2 separate regions of the Homo sapiens genome follow, and region 1 is linked to region 2. The links come from fine-mapping of genetic effects on gene expression. A gene starts in region 2. The other region holds a variant in brackets. All regions are shown on one strand. Distances are from middle to middle.

Region 1 (5,238 bases), 24 kb after region 2:
ATAGGTAAGTTCTTTAGTAGTGATTTCTGAGATTTTGGTGCACCCATCACTCAAGCAGTACACTGCACCCAATGTGTACTCTTATCCCCCACTGCCTCCCACTCTTCCCCCCAAGTCCCCAGAGTCCATTATATCATTCTTAAGCCTTTGCATCCTCATTGCTTAGCTCCCATTTATAACTGAGAACATAGAATGTTTGGTTTTCCATTCCTGAATTACTTCGCTTAGAATAATGGTCTCCAGCTGTATTCAGGTTGCTGCGAATGCCATTATTTCTCTCCTTTTTATGGATGAGTAGCATTCCATGGTATATGTATACCACATTTTCTTTATCCACTCATTAGTTGATGGGCATTTAGGTTGGTTCCATATTTTTGCAATTGCAGATTGTGCTACTATAAATCTGTGTGTTTGTCTTTTTTATATAATGACTTATTTTCCTCTGGGTAGTACCCAGTGGTGGGATTGCTAGATCAAATGATAGTTCTACTTTCAGTTCTTTAAGGACTCTCCATACTGTTTACCATAGTGGTTGTACTAGTTTACATTCCCACCAGCAATGTAGAAGTGTTCCCTTATTACCACATCCATGCCAACATCTGAAATTTTTTTTATTTTTAAATTACGGCCATTCTTGCAGGAGTAAGGTGGTATTGCACTGTGGCTTTGATTTGCATTTCCCTGATAATCAGGGATGTTGAGCATTTCTTCATATGTTTCTTGACCATTTGTATATCTTTTGAGAATTGTCTGTTCATATCCTTAACACACTTTTTGATGGGATTGTTTTTTTCTTGCTGACTTTTTTGAGTTCCTTATAGATTCTGGACATTAGTCCTTTCTCAGATGCATAGTTTACGAAGATTTTCTCCCACTCTATGGGTTGTCTATTTACTCTGCTGATTATTTATTTTGCTATGCAGACGCTTTTTAGCTTAATTAAGTCCCATCTATTTGTTTTTGTTGCATTTGCATTTAGGTTCTTGGTCATGAACTCTACTTAAGCCAATGTCTAGAAGAGTTTTTCCAATGTTATATTCTAGAATTTTTACAGTTTCAGGTCTTATCTTTAAGTCTTCGATCCATCTTGAGTTTTCTGCATAAGGTGAGAAATGAGGATCCAGTTTAATTCTCCTACATGTGGCTTGCCAGTTATCCCAGCACCAATGGTTCAATAGGGTGTCCTTTCCCCACTTTGTTTTTGTTTACTTTGTCAAAGATCAGATGGTTGTAAGTATTTGGCTTTATTTCTGGGTTCTCTATTCTGTTCCATTGGTCTACGTGCCTGTTTTTGTACAAGTACCATGCTATTTTGGTAACAATAGCCTAGTAGTATAGTTTGAAGTCAGGTAATGAGATGCCTCTAGATTTGTTCTTTTTGTTTAGTCTTGCTTGGCTATGCAGGCTCTTATTTTGTTCCATATGAATTTCAGGATTTTTTTTCCTAGTTCTGTGAAGAATGATGATGGCATTTTGATGGGAATTACATTAAATTTATAGATTGCTTTTGGCAGTATGGTCATTTTCACAATATCGATTCTACCCATCCATGAACATGGGATGCGTTTCCATTTGTGTGTGTCTGTGGTTTCTTTCAGCAGTGTTTTGTAGTTTTCCTTTTAGAGATCTTTCACCTCCTTGATTAGGTGTATTCCTAAGTATTATTATTTTTTTTTTTTTTGGCAGGTGTTGTAAGGGGGGTAGAGTAATTGATTTGATTCTCAGCTTGGTTGCTGTTGGTGTATAGCAATGCTACTGGTTTGCGCACATTGATTTTGTATCCTGAAACTTTGCTGGATTTATTTATCAGATCTAGGATCTTTTTGGATGAGTCTTTAGGGTTTTCTAGGTATGCTATCATATCATCGGTGAATAGTGACAGTTTGACTTCCTCTTTACTGATTTGAATGCCCTTTCTTTCTCTTGTCCAGTTGCACTGGCTAGGATTTCCAGTACTATGTTGAATAGAAGTGGTGAAAGTGGGCATCCTTGTCTTGTTCCAGTTCTCAGGGGGAATGCTTTCAACTTTTCCCTGTTCAGTATAATGTTGGCTATGGGTTTATCATAGATGGCTTTCATTACTTTTAAGGTACGTCCCTTGTATGCCAGTTTTGCTGAGGGTTTAAATCATAAAGGATGCTTGATTTTGTCAAATGCTTTTTCTGCGTCTATTGAGATGATCATATGATTTTTGTTTTTAATTGTTTATGTGGTATATCATATTTATTGACTTGCGTATGTTAAACCAGCCCTATATCCCTGGCAAGAAACCCACTTGATCATGGTGTATTATCTTTTTGATATGCTGTTGGAGTTGGTTAGCTAGTATTTTGTTGAGGGTTTTTGCATCTGTGTGCATGAGGAATATTGGTCTCTAGTTTTCTTTTGTTATGTCATTTCCTGATTTTGGAATTAGGGCGATATTGGCTTCATTGAATGATTTAGGGAGGATTCCCTCTTTCCCTATCTTTTGGAATAGTTTCAGTAGGATTGGTACCAGTTCTTTGAATGTCTGATAGAATTCAGCTGTGAATCCATCTGGTCCTGGACTTTGTTTTGTTGGCAGTTTTTTTATTACTGTTTCAGTCGTGCTACTTGTTATTGGTCTGTTCAGAGTTTCCATTTCTTTCTGGTTTAATCTAGAAGGGTTGTATATTTCCAGGAATTTATCCATTTTTCTCTAGGTTTTCTAGTTTTTGTGCATAAAGGTGTTCATAGTAGCCTTGAATGATCTTTTGTATTTCTGTGGTAT[C/T]GGTTGTAGTATCTCCCATTTCGTCTCTAATTGAGCTTATTCAGATCTTCTCTCTTCTTTTTTTGGTTAATCTTGCTAATGGTCTACCGATTTTCTTTATTTTTCCACAGAACCAGCTTTTTGTTTCATTTATCTTTTGTAGTGTTTGCTTCAGTTTTATTTAGTTCTGCTCTGATATTTGTTATTTCTTTTCTTCTGCTGGGTTTGAGTTTGATTTGTTCTTGTTTCTCTAGTTCCTTGAGGTGTGAGCTTAGATTGTCTGTTTATGCTCTTTCAGACTTTTTGATGTAGACATTTAATGCTGTGAACTTACTAAATGTAGTGCCGCTTTTGCTGTATCCCAGAGGTTTTGATGGGTTGTGTCACTATTGTTCAGTTCAAAAAATTTTAATTTCCATCTTGATTTCATTGTTGACACAAAGATCATTCAAGAGCAGATTATTAAATTTCCATGTATTTGTATATAGTTTTGAGGGTTCCTTTTGGAGTTAATTTCCAATTGTATTCCACTGTGGTGTGAGAGGGTACTTGATACAATTTCAGTTTTCTTAAGTTTATTGAGACTTGTTTTGTGGCCTACCATATGGTCTATCCTTGAGAATGCTCCGTGTGCTGGTGAAAATAATGTATATTCTGCAGTTTTTGGGTAGAATGTTCCGTAGGTATCTGTTAAGTCCATTTGTTCTAAGGTATAGTTTAAGTCCATTGTTTCTTTGTTGACTTTCTGTCTTGATGACCCGTCTAGGGCTGTCAGTGGAGTATTGAAGTCACCCACTATTATTGTGTTGCCATCTGTCTAATTTCTTAGGTCTAGTAGTAATGGTTTTATAAATTTGGAAGCTCTGGTGGTAGGTGCATATATATTTTGGATTATGACATTTCTTGTTGGACTAATCATTTTACTAGTATGTAATGTCCCTCTTTGTCTTTTTTAACTGTTGTTGCTTTAAAGTCTGTTTTGTCTGATATAAGAATAGCTAGTCCTGCTTGCTTTTGGTTTCCATTTGCATGGAATATCTTTTCCCACCCCTTTACCTTAAGTTTATGTGAGTCCTTATGTGTTACGTGAGTCTCCTGAACACAGCAGATTCTTGGTTGGTGGTCCAAATGTATCTTTTAAGAGGAGCATTTAGGCCATTTACATCCAACGTAGTATTTGAGATGTGAGGTACTATTCTATTCATCATGCTAGTTGTTGCTTGAATACTTTGATTTTGTTGTTTTTTCATTGTGTTATTGTATAGGCCCTGTAAGATTTAGGTTTTAAGAAGGCTCTATTTTGGTGTACTTCAAGGTTTTGTTTCAAGATTTAGAATTCCTAGGCTGAGTGTAGTGGCTCACACCTGTAATCCCAGCACTTCGGGAGGCCCAGGCGGGCATCACCTGAAGTCAGGAGTTCAAGACCAGCCTGGCCAACATGGCAAAACCCTATCTCTACAAAAAATACAAAAATTAGCTGGGCATGTTGGTAAGCCCCTATAATCCCAGCTACTGAGGAGGCTGAGGTACAAAAATCACTTGAACCCATTAGGCAGAGGTCGCAGTGAGCCAAGATCACACCACTGCCTTCCCGCCTGGGCGACAGAGCAAGATTCCATCTCAAAAAAAGAAACAAAAAACAAAGATTTAGAACTCCTTTCAGCATTTCTTATAGTGCTGGCTTGGTAGTGGTGAATTCTCAGCATAGATATCTCTCCTTCATTTAGGAAGCTTAGTTTTGTTGGATACCTTTTAAGGAGACTAAACACGTTGCCACACGCTGTTCTGTCCATCCATGTGGGAGCTGCACGTTAGTCCTGTCCCCTTATCCGCCATTTTCCTCCTCAGCACAGCAGATCAACATGTTTGCCTCTTTGTTTTGTTCTCTCCAGGGCCCCAGCAGATTGGATGGTGCCCACTCACATTTGAATGCAGATCTTCCTTACCTAGTCCAGAGATTCACATGCTAATCTCTGCTCATTCATTTTTAAACCATTCAATTATAAAAGCCTTGCATTTTTCAGACACCTGTTATCTTTTTCTTTTCTCAACCATTATTTGCCATTTGACCCTTGCAATAATCCATGCTCCTTTATTATGATACGAACTCTTCTTTCTGCTAATTGTTTTTTAACATTTTTAAAAGTATTATCTTACAAGATTCTGCTTCACAGTGTAACACAAGGTGCTAATAAAAGAAAAAAGTGCTGTATCAGGTGACAGTCTTAAGATTTTTGATAAAAATGTAGAAAGCACTGTACATACTTTGCCTCCAGTGCCTCTCTGGCTTCTGCTTACTGCTAAATACTGATGACTAAAAATAGATCTGCAAAGTTAAATAATAATAATGTTTTAAAAAGTTTCATGCGCGTCTGTATGAAGAGACCACCAAACAGGCTTTGCATGAGCAACAAGGCTGCTTATTTCACCTGGGTGCAGGCGGGCTGAGTCCGAAAAGAGAGTCAGTGAAGGGAGATAGGGGTGGGGCCATTTTATAGGATTTGGGT
Region 2 (5,212 bases):
CATTCCTCATACAACTCCCCTGAGTCCTTTTAGCTGTCCCCTTCTCTCTTCCAGCTTCAACTTTCCCCCTTCAGCATTCAAAATAAATCAAGTCACTCCCATTTTTGAGAACATTTTTTCAATCCACACATCTCTTCTTCTAGGCTTTCTAGTTCCGTTCATAAGGAAACATTATTGGGGTATTTACGCTTTTTTGTGTTATGAACCACTGTGGTAGCCCAGTGATGCCTATAGACCCCTTCACAGAGTGTTTTTAAATGCACAGAACCACAAAGAAATAACTGAAAAATGTGTATCAAATGTTCTAAAAAATGTGATATATACACTTCTTTACTAGTGTATTAAAAAAATATAATTAGGCCGCGCACAGTGGCTCACACCTGTAATCCCAACACTTTAGGAGGCTGAGACAGGCGGATCATATGAGGCCAGGAGTTCAAGACCAGCCTGGCCAACAAGGCAAAACCCGATCTCCATTGAAAATACAAAAAACCTAGCTGGGCATGGAAACATACACCTGTAATCCCAACTACTCGGGAGGCTGAGGCACAAGAATCCTTTGAACCTTGAAGGTGGAGGTTGCAGTGAGCCAAGATTGCACTACTGCACTCCAGCCTGGGTGACAGAATGAGACTCTATCTCAAAAAGCCAACAAACAAAAAAGCCCATAATCAAGCCAAAGACCCAATAATTAACAAAATTTTGAAGTAAGGATGAGCACGATGAAATCCTGAGATGCCTGTGATCACTGTATTGTGATAAGGAAATACCAATGATTTCCACAGATGACAAAGTCACAGGTATTGCTGATGCTACTAGTTGCTGCGTATGTTCATAATTGAAGAAATGCTAAATTTCAGTTGAAAGTTAGTGAAAATAAAGGTATAATATTTTTTCCATCCAGCTTCATGAAACCCCTGATTTCTATTAAAGGGTCCCTAGGTTAAGAGCCTCTACATTTTAGAGTTACCCCTACTCTCAATGCTGGGAAACCTTCCTTTCTCTCAGTATGTTCTCCCTGGTTCCTTGGCTTTAAATATGACCTATATGCTGATGACGAGCAAATGTATATATGCCTGCCCAGTCTTTCTTCTGAACACCAGGCTCACTTTTTTTTTTTTTTTTTTTGAGACAGAGTCTCGCTCTGTTGCCCAGGCTGGAGTGCAATGGCGAAATCTAGGCTCACTGCAACCTCTGCGTCCCGGGTTCAAGCGATTCTCCTGCCTCCTGACTAGCTGGGATTACAGGCACAAGCCACCACGCCCGGCTAATTTTTGTATTTTTAATAGAGACGGGGTTTCACCAAGTTGGTCAGGCTGGTCTCAAACTCCTGACCTCGTGATCCACCCGCCTTGGCCTCCCAAAGTGCTGGGATTACAGGCGTGAGCCGCCACGTCCGGCCCTGAACGCCAGACTCTTACAGCGAATTGCCTACTTTCTATCTCCACCTGCATGTCACTGCTAACAAAATATGTATAAAATGCAGCTCCTGGTGTAGGCCCTCTCCCTAGTACTCCTCCAAACCTGGTCCTGTCTGTCTTAATCTCAATAAAAGGTACCATCATCACCCAACTGCTCAAGCTAAAAGTACGAATCAGCCTTGATTCCTCCGTTCCATCACTCAATCCATCGGCAAATCCTGTCAGTCCCTTTCTAAATCACCCTCTTCTATTTCTAGTACCACCACACTAGTCTAAGCCACCTATCTTGCAGCCCTGCCTAACCGGCATCGAAAGAAAGATACCGGCCTTGGGTAAACCTCGACACTAGAGTCACACTACCATATCCAACAACAATGGCCAATCTAACCCCAGAATTCCACAGAGGTCATATTTCAACCCAGCAAAAGATGAAATATTCTAAAATAAAGGACTATAGGCTTTCACCAAATGGCTCTGTAGAACAGACAAGGAAACGTGGGTCAGAAAGCTGTGACTGTGCCTAATCCTAGAACAGTGAAGACGACCCAGACTGCATTCTCAACTGCACATGTGAGAAAACCCAGCACATGTCTCCAATGCCAGCTGAAGCCATTCCAACACAGACGACTTTCCAGGCAGTAATTCCTATTTCCAGCTGCCTGTTGGAGATTTCTACCTAAGAGTCCCACACACTTCAAATTCATATACCAGCCTGAACTCTCCATCCTTCCTCCCGTATTCCTTCTCCCAAAGCAATGAATCCACACCACCCACCATCAGCCAAGTAGGAAAGTCATCCTTCCCGCATCATAAATCCAATCAGCTACATTCTGTCTCCTAAACACCCTTGGACCGTGTCCTCTCCTCTTTACTGGCACTGCCTCTGACGTGAGCCAGCCCTGACCAACTGACAAATTATCTGTCCCCAGGTCCTCAGAAATGGCTCTTCCCCTGGCAGGCACCCCCACTGCCTGGGCTGAGAACCTTCGGGCTTCTCCCTCCTGGCTTGCACCTCGCAAATCGGCTAGAGAGGGCCTAGTCCTCGGGCTACCCGACCCATACCTTGGCTGGATTAGTCAACACCTCCTTCATGTACTCGGCCACAGTGATGGGACCAGTAGACTTTATTTTGTACATAAGATGCCGCAGCATCGGCGTCACCGGGTTTTCTGCAGGCTCATTCCCGGAGCTGAAGTATTTCCCTCTCCAAATAAAAGGAATGGCTGCGAAAAACACAAATTAAACAGACCCCATGATAAATCTGACCATTCACGAGCGCAAGCCGCCTGAGCGTTTTCAAAACAGCTTCGTGAACCCTTAACCTCGCCCCACCGCAGACCGCGGGCTACTGTGCTTAGCACGCCCACGGGGCGCAGAGACAGCACCCACTTGCCCACGACTACGCAGCCCTATTGCGTTTGTACCGGACCCGTTTCCAGCCCAGGGTACCTTCAAGGTGGAAGTGAGCCCCCGAGCCCTTGATCCCCCGGTACCCTCAACTGAAGAGCTGAGGAAGGCGCCCCACGCGGCTTCCACGGCAACCGGGCTTCGAGGGGACTGACGCTTACCTGCGCGCGCCACGGCACACAACGGCCCCAAACCTGACCTCAGCAGTACACTCATGCTGAAATTCGCAGGCTAGCTCGCTCCGCCAGGAGCTGGGGCTTAGACCATTTCCGGGAGAAGACACGCCCCGACAGGAATTACGCCACTGGCAGAGCGGAAATAGGCTGAGTTTCACGCGCGTATGCTTTGCCCGCCATGGCCGCAGTCAAGGAGCCTTTGGAGTTCCATGCCAAGCGGCCTTGGCGCCCCGAGGAGGCAGTAGAAGATCCGGACGAGGAGGATGAGGATAATACTAGTGAAGCCGAGAATGGGTTCTCCCTGGAGGAAGTGTTACGGCTCGGAGGCACCAAGGTAACGGCCGCGGGCTCCGGGGAACGGGATCAGGCGTGGAGAGTTCCGAAGGTGGCTAGGCTGACTGCCCCGCCGCTTCCGCGCTGCGTAGAGCGCGGGCGTCCAGGACCGAGATCCCAGCCTCTGAAGCATGTGTTCGGTGCGCTTCCCACGCCGGTTTCCACTGCTGTTTACAAAAGAAAAGTTTCGAATTGAACGTTGTATTCTCTGGCTATTCTTAGGATGTAGGCGATCTTCTGATTTTATTGACGTGGTATAACCATCACACCATCAGGTCGGAGAGTGGCTTTTCTTGGTCCTGACCTTGTGGTATGAGTGTTTTGAACACCAGTGGTATTGGAATTTTCATTTCTGTTCTCATAGAGTACATGCACGTGTCACTGTATGCCCCAGAAGCCCTCTTTTTTGGAGCATCCTAATTAAGGGAGAGAAACAGTAAACAAACTTTTAAACACATAGTACAGCAGACGCGGGGTAGTGCTATAAAAGAAAATAAAACAAGGAAGGACGATAAGGAGTGGGAGCGCGTTAGTATTAAATGAGATGATCGACAAACACATCACGGAAATGTTTGAGCAGAATCCTAAAGGACAGGAAGGAGTGAGCTGCCATTCCAGTCAGTTGGAACAGCAAATGCAAAGACAGGCAGAAGAGTGCCTAACCTATTCCATGAGCAGCCAAAATGCCAGTGTAGCAGAGGCAGAGTGAGTTAAGGGGAGAATAGTAAGAAAGGAGGGCCGAGGGGTCAGAGGGCAGGCTTTTGCTCTGAGTTTGATGCAAAACCACTGGAAGATTTTAAGCAGATAAGGAACAGAAATTAACTTTGTTTTTAATATTATTTTGTTTGGAGACTGGACTTTCAAGGTGGAGGAGTTAGTTAGAGATAGGCAGATTCACAGTTTGCTCTGTGCTTGTGTATATTTAAGTTTTGAATAGGTAATATATACACATGAAACACGTGGTGCAAACTTTAAAAGATACATAGTGAAGTCAAATTGTTTCCACTTTTATCTCAGCCATAACCATTGCCCTGATAGGAAGCAATTATTTTTACAACTGCATTTTATATCTTTCAGGGATACTATATACCTTTTCAAGCATATACATACTCATTTATGTGTATGAAATACGGGTGTATCTTTTTTACATAAATGGTACCATATATATACACCTATCTCTACATTTTGCTTTCTTTTCTGTCTTAGAAATCCTTCTATATCAGTGCATAACGTTCTGTGTCATTGCTATGGCTGCATAAATCATTTTGTCTGTCTTAATTTATCTAACCAGCCATTTATTGTGAATATTTAAATTATTGCCAGTCTTTCACTATTTTAAATAATACTACAGTTAATAACCTTAATCGTGTTTTTCCCCCACTTTTGTAAGTGTATATGTAGTATAAATTTGTAGAAATGAGCCAGGCACAGTGGCTCACACCCATAATCCCAGCACTTTGGGAGTCAGAGGTGGGAGGATACCTTGAGTCCAGGAGTTTGAGACCAGCCTGGGCAACATAAGGAGACCTCATCTCAAAAAAAAATTTTTTTTTTAAATAGCTGGGCGTGTAGTGCCAGCTACAGGCTGAGGTTGGAGGATCACTTCAGCCTGGGAGGTTGAGGCTGCAGTTCAGCCATGGTCATGCCACTGTACTCAAGCCTGGACAACAGAGCGAGACCATGTCTCAATCAGTTAGTTAATTTTTAGAAATGAAGCTGCTGGGCCAACAGATGTGTGCCTTGTATTAAATAGTTGTGATTGGAGTTGACAAATTGTCCTCCATGGAGGTTGTGTCAGTTTACACTCACATCAACCATGTATGAAAGTGCCGTTTCCGCCACCCCTTCCCCAGCATCACCTGTCATTGTATCTTG

Direction of the effects. Alleles are on the strand shown, and positions count from the first base shown. SD is a standard deviation of normalised expression in the study named.
For the expression in skeletal muscle of the gene that starts at base 3,092 in region 2, allele T in region 1 goes with a lower level than allele C (small effect, 0.35 SD a copy in FUSION).

Evidence for each region. PIP is the estimated chance that this variant, and not a neighbour inherited with it, causes the effect. A credible set is the group of variants that fine-mapping cannot tell apart.
Region 1: its variant is the best candidate, but not a certain one, in a credible set for the expression of NDUFAF7 in skeletal muscle (FUSION, PIP 0.53).

What each region holds. Positions count from the first base shown.
Region 1 is chr2:37,205,491-37,210,728 of GRCh38, reverse strand. All of the region lies in intron 13 of CEBPZ (CCAAT enhancer binding protein zeta), which reads left to right. It also overlaps a transcript of CEBPZOS not described here. Among named protein-coding and RNA genes, the nearest start is that of CEBPZOS, 12 kb to the right of the region's middle. RefSeq lists an enhancer at 4,519-5,238. The variant C/T (reference allele first, on the strand shown) is at 2,753.
Region 2 is chr2:37,229,538-37,234,749 of GRCh38, reverse strand. NDUFAF7 (NADH:ubiquinone oxidoreductase complex assembly factor 7) reads right to left here and starts at 3,092. Exons shown (of 10, transcript NM_144736.5): 1 at 2,990-3,092; 2 at 2,484-2,644. The coding sequence starts at 3,044. CEBPZ (CCAAT enhancer binding protein zeta) reads left to right here and starts at 3,154. Exons shown (of 16, transcript NM_005760.3): 1 at 3,154-3,338. The coding sequence starts at 3,183. RefSeq lists enhancers at 3,203-3,652, 2,610-3,809.